3 separate regions of the Homo sapiens genome follow, and regions 2 and 3 are each reported to be linked to region 1. Evidence: microRNA targets listed by miRTarBase, many of them from high-throughput screens and not tested one by one. Region 1 holds a microRNA gene; each other region holds the end of a gene's coding sequence.

Region 1 (3,251 bases):
CCATGGATCTCAATGCGCACCAGGGGGTCCACAATGGAGTGTGGCTTCTCGGCATTCAGCTTGGGCAGCTGCTGTGCAGTCAGCACCTGTGGGTGAGGGAGGGAGTGGCTGGGGCCCACGCCCACCTTGGCCATCCCCTCATGGGCCTCAAGCTCACACCACCCTCACTTCCAAATGTCCCCAGCCTCCCTTGCCTTCCTCCACCTCACAAAGAGCCTTTCTAGAACCAGTCTGACCCCACACTGGGGCCCGTTCCAGCCTGCTGACCTGGATGCTGAGAGTGGTTCTGGGAGGTCCTGGGTACTCGGGGTCAAAGGTCGAGTCAGGTTGCCGCAGGCAGGCAGGTTTTAGGACGTAGCCACACTGCCCATTGACTAGGAAGCGCCCGGCATTGAGGTCCATCTCGTAGCCTGGCGTCTGGAAGTTCAAGGCCACTGTGGACACAGCAGGGTCAGAGCAGGGGCTCTTAGCGGCCCTGTTCTCACTACTCAGTTTCAGGGGACTGCATTCCTCTCTACAAAGGGCCTGGGGTCCCACTGTCTGCTTAGTGCTGCTCTGCTCCCACCATGACTTTAGGGGAGGGGGTCATGGACCCAGCCCCCACTGTCACCTGTACTTCTGCCCTGGGATCCCTCAAGACTGGGGTGGGAGGTACTAAAAAAGCCCCCACCCTCAGGGCCAGGCTTGGGTCAGAGCCAGGGGTCTGAGGAAGCCTGGGGTTTCCATCCTTACCCCAAGGAGACGATACAGCCCTCCTTTGGTGGGGCTCAGCGTCCCCCAGAGCCCACCCTTGTCAGTGTTGACTTAGTGGGACTGCCAGGTGTGTGGGGGTTGTGTGTGTCCGGGGGACATGGGAGTGGAGATTTTAATTTCTACCATGATAAAAATGCGAGACCTGTACACTGTCAAGAACAAACGAGCCTGATTTGATTTTCCCACCTACATTGCTGGCAACTTTAAAAATAATCAACAAAATGCGTGTTTCCACCGTCTGGAAGGCTGTGTGGGCCCCTCACTGCTGAGGCCTCCCCCACACTGTGGCACCCCGCCTGCTCTCATTCCTGTGGCCCCCACTTACCCAGCTGACAGCCCGAGTTCCACATCTCCTGGGGACTGTAGTTGGCTGAGTTCATCCGCAGCCCCAGCGGGTACACGCGGGTCAGCTGGCGGGCATTGTGCCTGACAAAGCTGTTCCCTGGGGCAGAGTTGGGGTGAGACCGTGACAGACTCCGGGGGTCCCTCACCCAAAGCCCCGGCCTGTAACCTCCAGGGAACAGAGCCCAAGCCCGTCCCCAGGTCACCCTGCCCCCGCTCCTCACTCTCTTCTGACCTAGAGTGAGAGGGGAGCTCACTGAGGAGGCTGCAGGGACCCCCTCCAGCCACACAGCCTGGCCCTGCATCCCCAGCCCCCAATTCCCAGCTCCTGACAAAGTTCCAACCAAGTACACTGAATGCCCACGGCCCTCCAGCTCCACTGTGGTTCCTGGAATTCTTCTCCAGGCCAAGGCCCCAGGCCTTCAACAACCTGTTCCTCCTGTCTGGAAAGCGCTCTCCCCTCTTCACCTGGCTGCTTCCTAGTCCTCCAGGTGATGTGTCCTCTCAGCATCACCTGCCCCAGGAATTCCTCCCCAGTGTTGCAGCAGCTGCTGGGCTCCCCCAGCCCCCAGCCCAGCCTGACCCATCACCCTCTATGGCCGGCCCCACCACAGGGCTCTGAAGGCAGACAGCAGGCCGCCCTCAGCGTGCCACTCCCCTCCATCCACCCTGGCATGTGCGGGGCCCTCATTCCCTCAGCCCAGCCCCTCTTTGGGGTCCTCTTGACCTCTTTACTGTCCCCCAAAGCCCCCTCAACTCCTTTCCAGACTCCCTTCAGGAGGTCTCTCACCCTCTCGCCCCCAGACACCCAGTGCCCCAGCTCCTACCTGCCTCCCGAATGAGTTTCTTGGCTTTGCGCTCGCTGAGGGAGCTGACCTGGCAGGGTTGTGGGGCGTTGGGGGCAGGGTGCAGGGTCCGCAGGCGGGTGGCGTGGCAGTACACAGCCAGGGCCGACAGCTCCGGGGAGATCTGCTTGGCCTAGGAGACCAGGCTCAGCGGGGTTCAGCTGGCCCCCGCTTCCCACATCCGTCCTCCCACCTTCCCCCCCTTCCCCACCCCACCCATCCCAGCTCTCACCAGCCGCCTCTGCGCTGCAGCCTCCACCTCCTCTTCTTCCTCCTCGTCATCCTCCTCCTCCTCCTCCCGATCCGACAGAGCCCGGCCATCCTCGCTCCGAGCAGCGGGCAACTTCTTTCCCTTCACCAGGACCCGGCCCTTCAGCTGCTGTGGGGGCCAACGTGGAGGATGAAGGGTTAGGCCTTCTCGCCCCTGTGGCAGCCAGTCAGTCAGTTATTCAACCACCGCCTTGTGAGGGGCTGGCTAGGGGTGGGAGGCAGGAAAGGAGACACAGAGATGAGCGATGTTTCTAATAGGAAAGAGTGGAGAATGGCCCGGGAGGCCATCAGGAAGGGATGCTTAATAAGGTCCCTCAACATCAGAATATACACAGCAGCCACTACAATGCACGCGACAGCTCAGGACTGAAAGGAAAGGGACCCTCTTCAAAGAAGATCTTACGTGGAAGAAGTGAGGCTACAACCTGGAATCACATGTCCTTTTTTGGTACCATTTAAAAGAGAAGACAGTACACATATGTACACAGGTAATGTGTGTGGGGAAATTCTTGAAGGACATGCAAGAAAGTTAGAGATGGTTACTTCTTGTGAAAGAGGACAGGTCAGTGGAGGGAGGGGAGCACTGCTCATCGCGTCCCTTAGTACAGCTCAGTTTTCTTTTACCATACGGGTGTGATTTTCACAGTAATAACAAAAATCACATCTCACACACACACGAGGGTGAGTCAACCCTGCCTGCATGTTGGGGATTGGAAGTAGGAGGAGAGTTTTCTCAAGGAGCCCGACAGGATAAATGTCTGGAGAGAGCCGAGGACGCGCTCTGGTGTCTGGGGGAGAGCAGGAGGCCGCCTCAGGCCCGAGAGTTGGGGAAGTGGATAAGGCCACAGGAAGAGGCGGCTGAAGTTGAGCTGAATTCTAAGCAGGTGACGCTTGGCAAGTGTGGATGGCCGAGAAGGGACTTCCAGGTGGAGAAAGTGTCAAGCGGGGCCTTGCAGGTGGGAATGGCAGAGCCTGCAGGACTCTACGGGCAGGGACACAGGGCCAGCAGGGCAAAGCCAGGTTACAGAAGAGGGTGTGTGT
Region 2 (3,251 bases), not on the chromosome of region 1:
AGCCATATCTGGGCTTAGAGACAATGCCAGGTGGGAATAATGCCCTGGGTCAGAACTATGCTGATATCAATGATCAAATGCTGAACAGCATGCAAGATCCTTTTGGAGGAAACCCTTTCACAGCTCTCCTGGCAGGACAAGTGCTAGAACAAGTCCAGTCTTCACCCCCACCTCCACCACCATCACAGGAACAACAAGACCAGCTCACACAGCATCCTGCAACCCGAGTCATCTATAATAGCTCTGGTGGTTTCTCTTCAAACACCTCAGCCAATGACACCCTTAACAAGGTCAACCACACTTCCAAAGCCAACACTGCTATGATTTCCACCAAGGGCCAGAGCCATATCTGTGCCACTCGGCAGCCAGCTTGGATACCAGCCTTACCTAGCATAGAGCTTACCCAGCAGCTTCAAGAAGAATACAAGGATGCCACTGTTTCTCTAAGTAGCTCCAGACAGACATTAAAGGGTGATCTCCAGCTGTCAGATGAGCAGAGCAGCTCCCAGATCACAGGAGGCATGATGCAGTTGCTTATGAACAACCCCTACCTGGCAGCTCAGATTATGTTGTTCACAAGTATGCCCCAGCTGAGTGAACAGTGGAGGCAGCAGCTGCCCACATTCCTGCAGCAGACACAGATTTCTGATCTGCTTAGTGCTTAGGCAACCCTAAAGCATTCCAAGCAATATTGCAGATTGAGCAGGCCCTCCAGCTGCTGGCCACAGAGGCTCCTGTTCTTCTGCCTTGGGTTGCACCCTACCTATGGGGCCTGGGTTGGCTTCCTGCCCCCAGCTGCAGCTATCCTGACACAGTGCCCTGTTCCTGGAATGTTTCAGATACAGCTGAGCCCAAGGGACCTGAGTGCTGCCACAAGCCTGGAACAGTCCTGCAGAGGCTACAATCCCCGGATGGGGACCCTTCCCACCCTCTGCAAGCTCCTGAGATTTGTTTTAGCAAACAGATGGATTCTCTCCAGGCCATGGGATTTGGGAACCACCATGCCAATCTACAGGCACTCATTGCTACTGAAGGGGACACCAATGCTGCTATCCGCAAGCTCAAGAGATCCCAGAGATTCTAACCACCATGCCTACTTGTTTGCTTGCTACCTGCCTGCTGACCCACCTGACCATCTCATTTGCCTTTTGCACCTTTCCTGATGCTTCCAGCCAGGAGAAGTCCTGGAATAAGAGTTATCAACCAATGTGTCTTGTACTGAATAATAGATCATTGGTCGTGGCTGAAACATCTGTCAATAAAATGGCTACACTCACTTGCTGCGATCTGAGGTTTGGCTTTACTTCTTTTGCAAAAAAAAAAAGAAAAAACTAGCTGTGTGAGATTTTTGTCTCACCTACTATATGTACATTAACACACAAACCACATGCATATATTAATATAGAGATAAAAATAATGTTTTTATCTCTAAAACATGAGCATTTTGAGCATGGTATATGAAACTTGAGCATGGTATATGAAACTGATTATTTTGAGCATGTCACCTTGGACAGGTGTGTGTATGTACACAAGCTCACATAGTAAAAAATTCACATATACAGGCATATAGAGTCCACATATGAGTACACACAGCCATGTGCAAACACAGATGCAAATACCTAGAGACACATAAATAGACCCATATGTAGGGAAAACAATCATAACATGCTCAAACAGAAAGGGAAACATTTTACATAGATAGGCCCAGATATTTAGTCATAAAGACTGCCTGAATTTCTCAAACCCAAATTGTTCAAGTTTGAAAGTGGAACAGGAATAATATGAGGGCCAGAGTAGGGTGAATTCACATATTAACCAAGTCCGGATGAATAGTTATCATCATTGGAACCTCCTGCTCGTTGATTTTGCCACCATTATAAGATGGTGATGGGCTGTCTCTACTGTCTCTTTAGCACACAGAGATGCAGCTGCTGCCATCTCCACTGTATATCCCAGTCACCACAAATCCAGCCCTCCATGGGGCACAGCACCTTCCAAGAATATCACCTCCTTCAGTATATCTATCTTATGTTTGTAGTTTACATTTTCCATGGTTGCCAATGCCCCACCTTTTTCTCTTTCTGCCTCACCTAGAGTATCCCACCATGGCAGGATATGCAATTATTTGTGTTTTAATGATTCCATGATTAAATAATTTAAAACACTTTTACCATAATAATTCAATGTTGTTTTAGGCATTGAAAAAAATAGCAGTGAAAAAAACAAAGATCCTTTATTTATTGACTTTACTTTCTTTTGTGGAGATACAAGTTATGTTAAGTGGTAAGTGCTGTGAAGAAAAATGAATCAGAATAAGATATTCTACATAGGGTGATGAGGGAAGGCCTCTCTGAAAAGGTGACATTTGAGCAGAAGTCAGAAGTAACTACGAGAACTGAACATGCAATTCACTGGGAGAAGGAAGATCCAGGGGCTGTCTGAAAGTAAAAGGCCCAAGGTAGCAGTATTCCTGCTATGTTTTAAGAATAACAAGGAGGTGATGTAGCTGAAATGGACAAAAAGGAGCGGGGAATGGGGAGGAAGTCAGAGAGATTGTGAAAAGTTTTATAGGTCTGGTGAAAACTTTGGATTTTACTGTGAATGTAATAGTCACTGGTGAGTTTTGAGCAAATAAATCAAATAATTCAATTTATCAGTCTGGCTTCAGAGTGGAGAATGGACTGTGGTAGAGGAAAACCAGGGAAGCAGGGAAACCAGTTAGGAGGCTTTTATGATAGAGCAGTTGAGAAACAGTAGTTTCTTGCAGTAGGGTGGGAGCAGGGGAGGTGTTGAGGAGTAGATTCTGGACTCTAAAGGGGACCCATCCACAGAGATTTGTGTGCTCAACAGACCACCCCTTCTGAGCCCCAACATGGCCATCGGTAAGAGTGAAGGGCGGGCCTACAAACTTCCAAGTGTTTCTAGAAAGCTCACTGCCAAAGACCCCTACTTCATGTCTACACCTACCAAAAAGATAAGTCTCAATAAATAAATTACAGTGAAAATGGATTTTTTACCTCCCCATTTAATATGATTAAGCTTCATACCCTCTTTGCTACAGCTTGCATAAAAAGCTCAGGCTATCCAGGTCATCTTTTTTATTTTCATCACAATATGCTCTGAAAATTCCTCACTTGACTCATTTTTCTACTCGTCACCAGTTTTCCAGCCTCTTCATCCTACCATTTAGAAGTCATAATTTAGCAATAGAAAAGCCCACATATCTACAACCTTCTTCCTAAGGATGACTA
Region 3 (3,251 bases), not on the chromosome of region 1:
GATTTAAATGGCCCTCATCAGCCACGTCCTGCTGAGCTTGCTGGGTAAGCCCTTTGAGGTACCTGATGTATTGCAGGGAGCAGGGAAAGGAAAAAGGATTTTTTTTCAGAAATGCCTGTAAAGTGAATGGAGACTAGACACCGTCCAGCTTCAAGAAGGCTCAGGACTTTCAACAAAGGGAGCATACCTGACCTGAGAGCTGTCCCCATCCTCTCTGGAAGCATAAAGAACAGTGAGCACTGGCTAATCCCATTGTCTCTGGTCCCCTGCAGGCAAACTGTCCTTGGAAGAATTCATCAGAGGTGCCAAGAGCGACCCCTCCATCGTCCGCCTGCTGCAGTGCGACCCCAGCAGTGCCAGTCAGTTCTGAGCGAGCGGCCCCTGGACAGTTGCAGAGAAACACAGGCTTGTCGTGCCGTTTAAGCTTTGCTTGCAAGAGTGGATGCCCCGCAATCGTTCCTGCTCTCCCGGGCCCCGGGCCTGGGGCATGCGTTGCACCTGCCCAGCCCGGTGGCTGCGCCTCCCTCCTCCACCTGACCAACGCGACATTCCTCCCCTCACGCCTGGCCCGGTCCCTTCCAGGGCAACTCCCAGGGATGTGGTGACATGCAGGGTTCAAGTGTTCTTGGTTCCAGGCACCTCCCGGCTCACGGGGAGCTCAGAGGTCCATGCCGAGGAGACCAGGCAGGACCTCCCGAGGCTGCGCCCCGGCCGGCCCATGCGTTTTGTGATCCCAAGTGACTCTGTGGGAAGGGTGGGGACGAGGCGTCGGGAGGGTATACAGGGAGCCCCTCCCGTGCATGGCTGCCCCCCCGTTCATTTTCTCCACCACAGCCGCTTGCACGTATAGATACTGTGGTCCCCTTTCTTTTAATATATAAATTATGTATGGTGAAGTGGAGTGTATTGTGTAGGTCCCGTATTTAATGCCTCTGACTGCCTTTGAAGCGCAGCCCTCTGTGGCCCGCAGCCCCCTGAGCCTGGCTGTTGTGTGGTATTTATGCTCTCTTTGTCTGCCTGTTTCTAAGGAAATGCATGTGTGCCCTGAGCCGTGATGATCCTCCCATCCGTGTTGTGAGCACAGGCATTTGTGTCTGGTCTGTCCTCCCTGTTGATTGGTCTGGCATTTCCGGTATTAAAATGATAAAATAAATGGCATTTTCTGAGTTTTGCGTCTGCCCGCGGGAGCCCCCATTCCTCAGGCCGTGGCCCCTGCACTCTCCAGGCAAGGCGGGTGTGCTGCGTGCCACCGCTGTTGGTAAATCCGGCCCCTCTTACGTCCCTCCAGCTGTCCCCGCGTTTATAAATCTTGCACAGCCTGTTCTTCAATATCTGCCTAATGCCAAGAAATACTCGTGGAAATAAACGATGACTGTTCTTGGCAGATCTGACGGTCAGGCTTCTGCCTCCCCCCAGCCCTTCCCTCTCCTTCTCCTTCCACGGTTTCAGGTCGTAGGAAAGCCACATTCCAAGAGAGGACGGGCATAGCCAAGGGTGCAGTCAGGCTGGACCCAGAGGTGGCAGGCCTGGTTCTCCATCCAGCCTTCGCCGCTGCCGTCAGTGCTTCTGGTCCCAGCAGCAGAAGGCCCAGCTGAAGAAGTGGGGGTTGGTTGGTCTCGCCTGCCAAGGGATCCAAAGGCAGCATCGCTGGGGATCCCCAGGCATCAGCTTGTCTTTTTTTTTTTCTTTTTTTAAGAGAGAGTGTCTCTCTATGTTGCCCAGGCTGGCCTCAACCTCCTGGGCTCCAGCAATCCTTTCGCATCAGCCTCCTGAGTAGCTGGGACCTCGGGTGAACAGCACTGCGCCTCCTAATCACAGTCAGCTTTTCACCTCAGGCTTGTCTTCCTGGGGTGCCTACAACTGCTGTTGTGGTTCTGGGCAGTACAGCTGACATGGGAGCATCAAGAGGCAGGGAGAGAAGCCTCTGTCCTCCCACTGAGGGACAGGAAAACCCTCCAGAATCTGCCCACCACCCCGTCCCCACCAGCCCCACATCTCATGGCTGAAACCATGGCCTGTGTTCACAAGATGACCATGTCATGGCCACGGCTGGCTTACGCTGGTCAAGATGGCCCTTGGCCAAGGTGGCATCTGCCTCCCCCAGAGGGCATAGGGTTGGGAAGGGGTGAGTGGAATGGAGGTTCTATTACCAGGACGGGCACTACGGCGTCTGCCCACCTGCCTGCTGCTGTCGGCTCCTCTGTGCCTCAGTGTCTTCACTGTAGGGGATGGGGGGAGCTGGGTGGCTCAAGGTCACATATGCAAAGCGCATGGCTTGGAACCTGCCTCCCAGCAGGCCTTCAGCAACAGCAGCTAATTTGTTGATTTTAGTCATTTTAATATTTTTTAAGACTCCATGTCTCTTTTAATAGAAATGGTGAGTCTGTTTGCCAAGTGCCTTCTGAGTCAATGGCACTGCTAGAGCTATTTCATAGTAAAACTCTCCATGCACCCAGAGCCACCAAGCCTTGATGGGGGAACCAGGTGGGGTGCGAGATGGAGGCCAGGTGCCCTGGGCAGATCTAGCTTGCTACAAAGAGGCAAGACGGTGCCTTTGGCAACACTGCCTCACCTGGAAGAACAGCCAGTGAACGGCTTGAATTTTATAAACATTTAACTGGGACTGGCAAAGGTTAAATCAAGAGTGCTTGTTGTGGGGAGGGCTCACTTATGATGGGGACAGAGTCCAACAGAAACAGATGGGAGTGACCACTACATTAGTCAGGGTTCTCCAGGAACAGAACTGATAGGAGACATGCATGGATGGGAGGGGTGGGTGGATGGATGGGTGGGTGGGTGGGTGGATGGATGGATGGATGGATGTATGGATGAGTGGGTGAGGGGATGGGTGGGTGAATGGATGGGTGGGTGGATGCATAGACAGGTGGATGCATGGATGGGTGGATGGATGGCTGGGTGGATGGGTTGGTGAATGGGTGGGTCGGTGGGTGGATCGATAGGTGGATGGGTGGGTCGATGGATGGGTCGGTGGGTAGATGGATGGATGGGAGTATGGGTGGATGGGTGGGTGGGTGGATGGGTCCCTAGGTGGATCGGTTGATGGATGAATGGGTGGCTGGATGGATGGATGGATGGGTGGATGGATGGTTGGGTGGGTGGGTGGATGGATGGATGGGTGGATGGGTGGGTGAATGGTTGGGTGGGTGGGTGGATGCATGCATGGGTGGGTGGGTGGGTGGGTGGATGGATGGATGGATGGATGGGTGAATGGTTGGGTGGGTGGGTAGATG

What was found. The annotated mature microRNA hsa-miR-6784-5p reads GCCGGGGCUUUGGGUGAGGG and lies in region 1 at 1,238-1,257, opposite strand. An mRNA with a match to its seed (bases 2 to 7 or 8) in the 3' UTR can be bound and repressed. Matches are read on the target gene's strand: a 7mer-m8 pairs with bases 2 to 8, a 7mer-A1 pairs with bases 2 to 7 and ends in A, and an 8mer does both.
Region 2: the mRNA of UBQLNL is a reported target of hsa-miR-6784-5p. Seed matches in the 3' UTR shown: 7mer-A1 at 906-912.
Region 3: miRTarBase lists HPCAL1 as a target of hsa-miR-6784-5p. Seed matches in the 3' UTR shown: 7mer-m8 at 472-478 and 7mer-m8 at 705-711.

The regions. Positions count from the first base shown.
Region 1 is chr17:45,113,172-45,116,422 of GRCh38, forward strand. It overlaps MIR6784 (microRNA 6784), which reads right to left and starts at 1,262; the gene lies at 1,196-1,262. It overlaps PLCD3 (phospholipase C delta 3), which reads right to left. Exons shown (of 15, transcript NM_133373.5): 9 at 2,173-2,319; 10 at 1,923-2,073; 11 at 1,079-1,195; 12 at 268-434; 13 at 1-86. RefSeq lists enhancers at 1-489, 1,356-2,221.
Region 2 is chr11:5,512,428-5,515,678 of GRCh38, reverse strand. It overlaps UBQLNL (ubiquilin like), which reads left to right. Exons shown (of 1, transcript NM_145053.5): 1 at 1-1,286. The coding sequence ends at 665. Among named protein-coding and RNA genes, the nearest start is that of UBQLNL, 2.6 kb to the left of the region's middle.
Region 3 is chr2:10,426,452-10,429,702 of GRCh38, forward strand. HPCAL1 (hippocalcin like 1) reads left to right here. Exons shown (of 5, transcript NM_002149.4): 5 at 273-1,153. The coding sequence ends at 370. Among named protein-coding and RNA genes, the nearest start is that of SNORA80B, 19 kb to the right of the region's middle.